2 linked regions of the Homo sapiens genome follow. The protein of the gene in region 2 interacts with the protein of the main gene of each other region in a pairwise test. Each region holds a gene or a part of one and is shown on either strand. Other genes may lie near its edges.

Region 1 (3,814 bases), on a different chromosome or scaffold from region 2:
TGAGCACCCACAGCCTGCAGCCCCCACTGCCTCTGGCTCAGTGACTCTGCTCAGGAAGGCACAAGGATGGGTGGGTACGCAGGACCCACCCAGTTTATCGACTTGGGTTTTGACTGCCCTGGCCGACTGGCTTTCCTAGTGGACTCTGCTATGTGTGCACGGCTGCCTATGGGCGCCGCTTCCTTCCTGTCTCCTGCCATCCAAACTGATTTGCCCACACTGGAGAATGGGGTGCCTCTTCAAAGACTCAGCTCCACCATCCCAGCTTCTGAGCTGCTGCGATGGGACGGCCTCTCCTTTCGGAGGAGTCAGGAGGCTGAGGGAGGTGGTCAGGGGCATGCTGGACGGCGCTGTCTATCTGTGATCCCCCACCGTGGAGAGTGTCAGAAAGCTCCCAGAGGACAATGGAGGCCACTTGGTCCAGGTCCCTGTCCTCCAGCAGCTCTGTTCTGTGAGGGAAGAAGGTGCGCCGTGTGTGCAGGGCACAGGCCGCCTCCTCGTTGGTTCTACGGAAGGCCTTCCTCCTCAGTGAGCTAGACTCCAGAGCCAGGCCCAAGGCTGCCAGGCCTTGAGACTCCATGGCGAAGATAGAGGGGCTGTCCACACACATGCCACCCACCTCCTTGGAGGGGAAGGCCCATCAGGACTGAGACACCTGCTGTGTGAGCCAGCCTGTGAGTGTTCAGATACCCAGAGCCCCAAGTGGGGCAGTCAGCACGGACCCAAGGGCCTGGCGCATATCTTGGGCCCTCACAGAAAGCAGTCTGTCCCTGGTCCAGCCACATCACTGAGCTCAAGGTCTCACAAGGGCCTAGCCATGAGAGTGAGGCCAGCACCTCGGAGTAGCGGAGGACAGTGGGGTGGGGCTGCAGGCCGGCTGTGAGCAGAGTGCTGGGGACTCTGGCACTGGGTGGTCACAGTGGTTGGTTGGTTCAGGAGAGGTGAGAACAGTCAGCTAGCTCTTGGCAACGGTGCCCAGCTGTGGCTCAGTACAGCAGACAGGAGGAGGGAGCCACACAGAGCCCAGCCCAACCCTGGGGAGCTATCAGTGCCGTTGGGATCCTGCTGGAGACTGCCCTGCCCGTCGGGGTTCACAGTGCCTGCCCGTGGAGGCTTCCAGGGTGCAACAGAACCCCTGAGCCCTCTTGATGCCCACCTCAAAGGCAACTCACCCCCTCAAGCTGTCCTCAGCCCAAGGGGGAGAATTCACAGTGTTCGGTGGTGGTAGGTGCGAGAGCTGCAAGTGTACAGCGTCTACGCTGCCGCCCGCCCAAGAGGAGCAGGTCCCAGTGCAGGTGGGGCCTTGGCATCAGCAGCTGGAAGGAGAGAGTTGAGGACAGCAGAAAGATCGGATGGCAAAGGCACAGTGAGACTAGTGGAGACAGGGAGTGGGTTGTTTTAGAAGATAGTGGTCTCATACTTGGTGCTGAGGCTCCGCTTAGAGTCTGGTTTGGGGTCCACAACCCAGGAGACACTGGCATGGGATTGGGCATCTTGGTCCATATCAGGTGGTTCCAGCTGCCAAACAAGGAAGCAGTCAAGAGTCAGAGGGAGCTCTGTGCCAGGGCTGGAGGCAGCAGGCCCCTCCCACCCCCAGGCCAGGCTGTGGCCCCTGTGCTGGGAGGGGCAGCCCTTATTCTCCTCGGCCAAAGAGCAGGCCCCTGGGGGCAGGCGGAGGAGGGACACCCTCCTGGAGCATCTTGGGGAGGGCCACCTCCAGGCACAGCTTCTCTCCGGGATTTCTTGGGATTGCTCAGTTAAAGGACCCCTGTCCTAGGCGGGCCTCCTGCTCTAAGCCCCAGACCCACTCACACTGGGCAGGAAGGGGATATGGGGCTTGCAAATGTCCAGCCTCGGGTCTCTCTGGTAGGCCCAGAGAGCTCACCCCAAGGCAAGACCACAGCAGTCACCCCAGACCTCTGGAGAGAGGACACACAACAGAAAAACAGAGAGGGCTGAAGCACACACAGAACAGGCAGAGGGCATCTCAGGAAGAGGGGAAAGAATGTCACACAGGCAGAGGGAGAGGCCGCCAGAGGCTAAGAGCGCTCACGGTCACTTCGGGGAGACTGACACACAAGACAGCAGGAGGCGTAAAGACCTTGACTCCAGGACTAACAGATGGCAGCGGTAGGTAGGAAGGACGGTGGGTGGTGCAGGTGTGACAGTAACAACAGCGACTATCGGGGGGCAGCGGCACCTGGGGTGCAGAGCAAAGCAGACACAGACACAGGGATGGCGCAGTTACTGGGGGCTGCCTGCAGGCCGCTCTCTGCAGCCCCTTGACGGCCTTGCCCTTGGGGGAGCCCAGCGAGGGAGGGAAACAGGAGCATGAGAGGCCCGCCCAGGCCAGAGGAGCTGCTGCCTTTCCAGGGGCGAGACCTGGCAGGGTTGGGGGACAATTAAGAGGGTCATTTCCCTGGAGGGCCAGCTTTCTGGAAGTGCCAGAAGACCCTCCTCACGCTGACCACCCTGAGCCCTTGAATCCCTGGGGCCAGGGAGAGGGGGATCTTGGCCAGTGGGGCCCACGTACTGCGGATTTCCTCACGCCGACCCGAGGCTTAGGCACCGGTTTGGAAGATTTTGTTTCAATCATCTCAGCTGCAGAGGCGCCCGTCGCCCTGGACTTCTGGGCCTGCAGGGCCAACTGATAGGCCACTTCGAAGGCCTGCCCCAGCGTCAGGATGATCTCGTAGGTCAGGTTCTGGGAGGAAGCAGATCACCACTTAAGCACCTGGTTCAGGAGCCGCTTCACACTGGATATGCCCTTCCTCGCAGGGACCATGTGTCCCCCTCTAAGTCTACCCGGGAGCGCTCCTACCTCCTTCCACTCTTCCCTCCTTTCCCTCCTTTACTCTTCCTAGGTCTCTGTTGTTCTTCCCGCTCTACACAGGATGTGGCCGGGAGCTGGGCTGCGGGGAGGGCAGGTGCACACTGCTGTAAGCCTACGGCAGGTCTTTTCCAAGGCAGGGTGCCGTGCCTGCAGCAGTACTTGGGTATTTCTTACCATTTAATGTAAGTGGTGCTAGTGCTTTTATTTTTAATGTGTCACCGACAAAGTCTGTGAGTGCTGTGCCCCTAACTCCATTTCCCCATAAACCCTGTGGTTTTCCTTGTGTGATTTTACACAGCACAGTGATTGTTAGGAGCGTATGTGTGGCGTTACAGCAGAACTGAGTGTATGTGGGAAAAGTCAGCAACAGGTAAATGCCACTGACTGTGCTGTGTGGACCACCTCATCCATCTCACAGTGGCCCCTGAGGTGGGCCACATTATATCCCCTCCAGACAGATGAGGAAGCAGGCAGATGCGATGTTTCCAAGCTCACACAGCCAGCAAGCAGCAAAGCCTGGTTCCTCCTAACCTTCACTGGCCCAGAGCAAACAGAGGACTGGGGTGGATGAGGTCCCAGGAGTGTGGGGATGCCCAGAGCTGCCTGTATTCCAGGAGCCACAGAGATTCTGGAAGCAGCTGCTATCCCTGAGGGCGGCAGAGACCTGGACCCCTCTGACTTCCTCCCGGGGTGAGGAAGCAGCCTGGGGCCACTCTCATGCTTTGTTGCAGGTTAGAGGGAACCCCCGCCTGTGGGCTGTCAGTTCTGGTCTGCTCCCTGTGGGCAGCTGTGTGAGAATGAACTCTCCTCGGCCCAGTGGCATCCAGAGCCGAGCCTCAGCAGGAATTTGAGGGAAGAAAATCTGCCAAAGAGGGCACCACTGCCCCTAAGAGGGAAGTAGAGGGCATTTCTGGGAGGCGGCCCAGCCAGAGGTTGGAGACCTAGGGCAGGGAGCCGGGGGAAACAAAGGCCTTGCCTGAC
Region 2 (3,814 bases):
ACCCACCTCCATTCTCAGGCCACACTTCCACATCAATTCAGTCAGTCTCTGGGGATGGGGCCCAGACATCCTTAATTTTTAAAGATCCCCAGTTGATTCCAATGTGCAGCCAAGTTTAAGAACCATTGGGCTTAGGTTTTCAGTGTCTTCACTCATAAAATGAATGAATCCTTCAGAACCAGTGATTCTGACCACTAGACGCATGTTAGAATCACCTTGGGGAGATTGTTTAAAACACTAATGTGATGCCAGCACCATCCCTAGAAATTCTAGTGATTCTGTGGAGCCCAGGCATCAGCAATTTTAAGACCTCCTCAGGTGATTCTAAAACGCTGCCATGTAGATGACCACTGGTCCAGAAGTTTTTGCCAAGATTCCTTCTATTGCTTGTTTTAAGGACCTATGGTATTAAAGCTGAAAATGCATCTTAGACATTTTGCAAAGGTGGAGCCCTCATCTTTACCTTTACAGCAGAGGTTTTTAACTTTGGATGAATCTATTAATTCCCCTCAATCATATACAAACTGTTGATTGAATATGAATATGTATATGTATTTGTATTTTTCAGGAGGGAGTGTCATCTGCCTTTATTAGGTTCTCAAAAGATTTAAGAATGCTATTTTAAAAGCAAATATTAGGTTTCTGACGTAATAAATTTAAGAAAATTAAAGAATGAATGGAAAATAAATTTGGTCTCATCAGCACCTTTGCTATAGTTTGGATTTGATCACACCCACTGCCACCTAGTGGCTATATATCCTTATTGCAGGTTTAGTTCAGATCACATTGCCCATCCTCTGAAAACTGTTGAGCAATAGATGTGCAGATTTCAGATCCAAGCATCAAAGTAAAAGCTTTCTCTGGGACTAGGATTAGTACCAGTAAGAGGCTATCTGGAAACACTCACTACAAGAGATGACTTCCCAAGCTGTACTTGTTAAGGAGACTGTCCACTCAGATATTTTGGATTCATACCCTTAACTGGGTAAGGATATTACGGTTTCCTAGTTCTTACTGTTGTTAACTATTTGCCTTGGCTTGAATCTTGTTTTTCTCTCTTACTAATCATGTGACCTTGGGAAAGTTACTTAACCTTTCCATTCCTCACACAAAATGGGGATAATATAAGTACTTCTAAGATTGCTGTGGAGAATAAATAAGAAAATATATGTAAAAGGCTCAGCATGACTCTTGGCACAGAACAAGATTCCAATAAATATTTAGGTTATATTACTGTTATTACTGATTTTTAAATTATTATTAACATCTCAGTGACCTTGTTCAAGTTACTAAATTTCTTTGAGCTGCATATATTGACCCGTAAGACAAGGAAAATAAGCCCTGCCATTTTCTTCACAGTTATAGCTATGATAAGTACAAAAAGTAAAAGGCATATTGTTATTTTATGGCAACTCATCATACATCCAGGGAATCTACAGAGCACAGGAAAAGGTCACTCAAAAATACAGATGTTAATTCTCACCCTCAGGAAGGAGCTCTTTGAGATCCCAATAGTTGAGCAGGCTCTACATTGGGGTACAGTAATTTCTTGTCACATATCTAGCATCCTACTCAGCCTAAAGTTTCCCACCACGTGGGCGAATGGATGGCCATACCCTGCTATGGATGCTGCAAGCTCCTTTTCCGGTAAGAGAATTATACCAACCACTCACTAGGTCACAAGTGCCTGAAATTGTCAGTCCTCATCCAGCCCAGACACTGACCGGCAGCAGTCTTGCCCATTCCAAACTCACCCCAGGGAGAGAGTCCCAAAAATCTTTTGCCAGCCTGCCTGTCCATGAGAGTCCCTCATCACACCATCATGGTCCACAACCTGCCCCACCAGAGCAGAAACATCCTGAAACCTCTCACCAGCCTCAGCAAAGAATCAAGGTGCCCAGCTGTTACTTACCTGGAGTCTGCTTGGCCGTACGCACAGGAGTGTAGTGGTTTTTGGAGGACGATCTGACCGGCGTGTTCTCTTTGGGAGAGGTATCGATAGCCGAGATAGTTTCTCTTTCACAGTGTGCTATGGGGATTGGTCCCTGTTGTCTTAAGATGTCAGCCAGAGCCCTAAACAAGGAGGAGATCACATAATGAGATTCACTGAGCAGGTGTGCACAACCATGAGGGGAGTTGGCTTACTTTCATATGCCCTTTGATTTACAGAGATGCAGGAAGAGACAGAGACAGCATTCAGCTCTCAATAGTCAGCTACATCTGGTGTTGGTCTCAGGGGGGACACAGGGTAAAGGTTACCATGCCTGGAGGTACAGACTAAAAGGCTGGGACTACGGTTTCTTTCTTTAATTTATTTCACATCAGTAAACTCTGAGCCCTTTCAAAATACTGGCTCCCCAAATATCCACCTATGCCAGGCAGGTATCTATAGCAGCTGGCCAGTGGAATGCCACTATGGTGAAGGGCTGAAACCATCGGCCTCAAATTCAGCAGCAGGTCACTAATATCAGGGGACCACTTCATCATCCAAAACTACACACTGAGTATCATGTACTAGATACTGGAGACCCAAATAAGTACAACACACAGCTCCTGCTATCAAGGAAGGGTGTGATTGAGCTGCAAAGACAGGACATAGAGATGAAAAGATAAAAATCAAAACACGTGGATGGTGCAGACATTGAAGACAACTGGAGTTTAGAGGAGGGAGCAATCACAAACACAGGGGAAAAATACACAGGAAGAAAGAGAGACAGGCAGAGACTCTGCCATAGCAGGAGAGACCCGCCCCCCTGCAAGAGGTCCAGTTACTCAGAGAAAGCAGCTTTTGTTAACTCAGCGCCTAGCTTCAACAACCAAACATGCATTGACTGACGATTCAGCATGCATCAGTCATTGAAGAGACACAGATCAATGGGACCCAATTCCTGCCATCTAGGGGTTCATAATTTAGGGGGAATCGCTCTCCTATTTGCTTTCAAACAGGATGCCCTCTGTGGGTGTGACATGTGAGATACCCACTGGCAGTGGGAAACAGATGAGTGTGGACAGCCACAAGAAACTACACCTGGATACTGTCACTTCAGATCCAGGTCCCCAGTCCTCAATGCACTCCCGTTTTGCACATGCCAGGCAAAGACTATTCCATCTTCTCGAGGGGTGTCTCTGATGGGTGGGGCCCTGCCCACCCCAAGGCTTCCCTCTTACCAGGAGTCCAGCTCCAACACTCTGCCCCCATGAAAAGTGACAACTGCAGCAGTTTAAAAATGCATCTGAGTAAATTGTGGGGGAAAGAATAGTTTCTTCACAAAATGGTCCTGGGACAACTGACTGGATCGCCACATGAAAAAGAAGGGAGTTGGATCCTTACCTCACACCATATAAAAAACTAACTCAAAATGGATTATATACCTAGATATTAGTCCCAAAACTGTAAATCACACTGAGATACCTTTTCATACACACTAGGATAGCTATAACCAAAAAGCCACATAATACCAAGTATTGGCAAGGAGGTAGAGAAATTGGAGCCTTCATACACTACTGGTGGAAATGGAAAACCCTGCAATCCCTTTGGTAAACAGTTTAGCAGCTCCTCAAAACTGCAATGTTCCTTAAACGCAGAATTAACATATGGCCCAGCAAATCTACTCCTAGGTATTCCCAAGAACAATGAAAAATATATGTTGCATTAAACTTGTGTACAAAGGTTCATAGCAGCAGTATTAATAACAGCCAAAGGGTAGATACAACCCAAAAGTCCATCAACTGCTGAAAGGAAAAACAAAATGTGGTCTATTCACACAATGGAATATTATTCAGTCATTTAAAAAAGGCATACTGATACCTGCTA

Evidence for each region.
Region 1: the proteins of SHISA6 (region 2) and ANKS1A interact in a two-hybrid assay, tested with the Homo sapiens proteins (one large-scale study listed by BioGRID).

What each region holds. Positions count from the first base shown.
Region 1 is NC_000006.12:35,084,656-35,088,469, reverse strand, and holds part of ANKS1A (ankyrin repeat and SAM domain-containing protein 1A), read right to left. Parts: intron 2,705-3,814; coding exon 2,534-2,704; intron 1,519-2,533; coding exon 1,421-1,518; coding exon of another isoform or gene 1,399-1,420; exon of another isoform or gene 1-1,398. UniProt on the Homo sapiens protein: Regulator of different signaling pathways. Regulates EPHA8 receptor tyrosine kinase signaling to control cell migration and neurite retraction.
Region 2 is NC_000017.11:11,261,625-11,265,438, reverse strand, and holds part of SHISA6 (protein shisa-6 isoform 1 precursor), read right to left. Parts: intron 2,074-3,814; coding exon 1,913-2,073; intron 1-1,912. UniProt on the Homo sapiens protein: Involved in maintenance of high-frequency synaptic transmission at hippocampal CA3-CA1 synapses.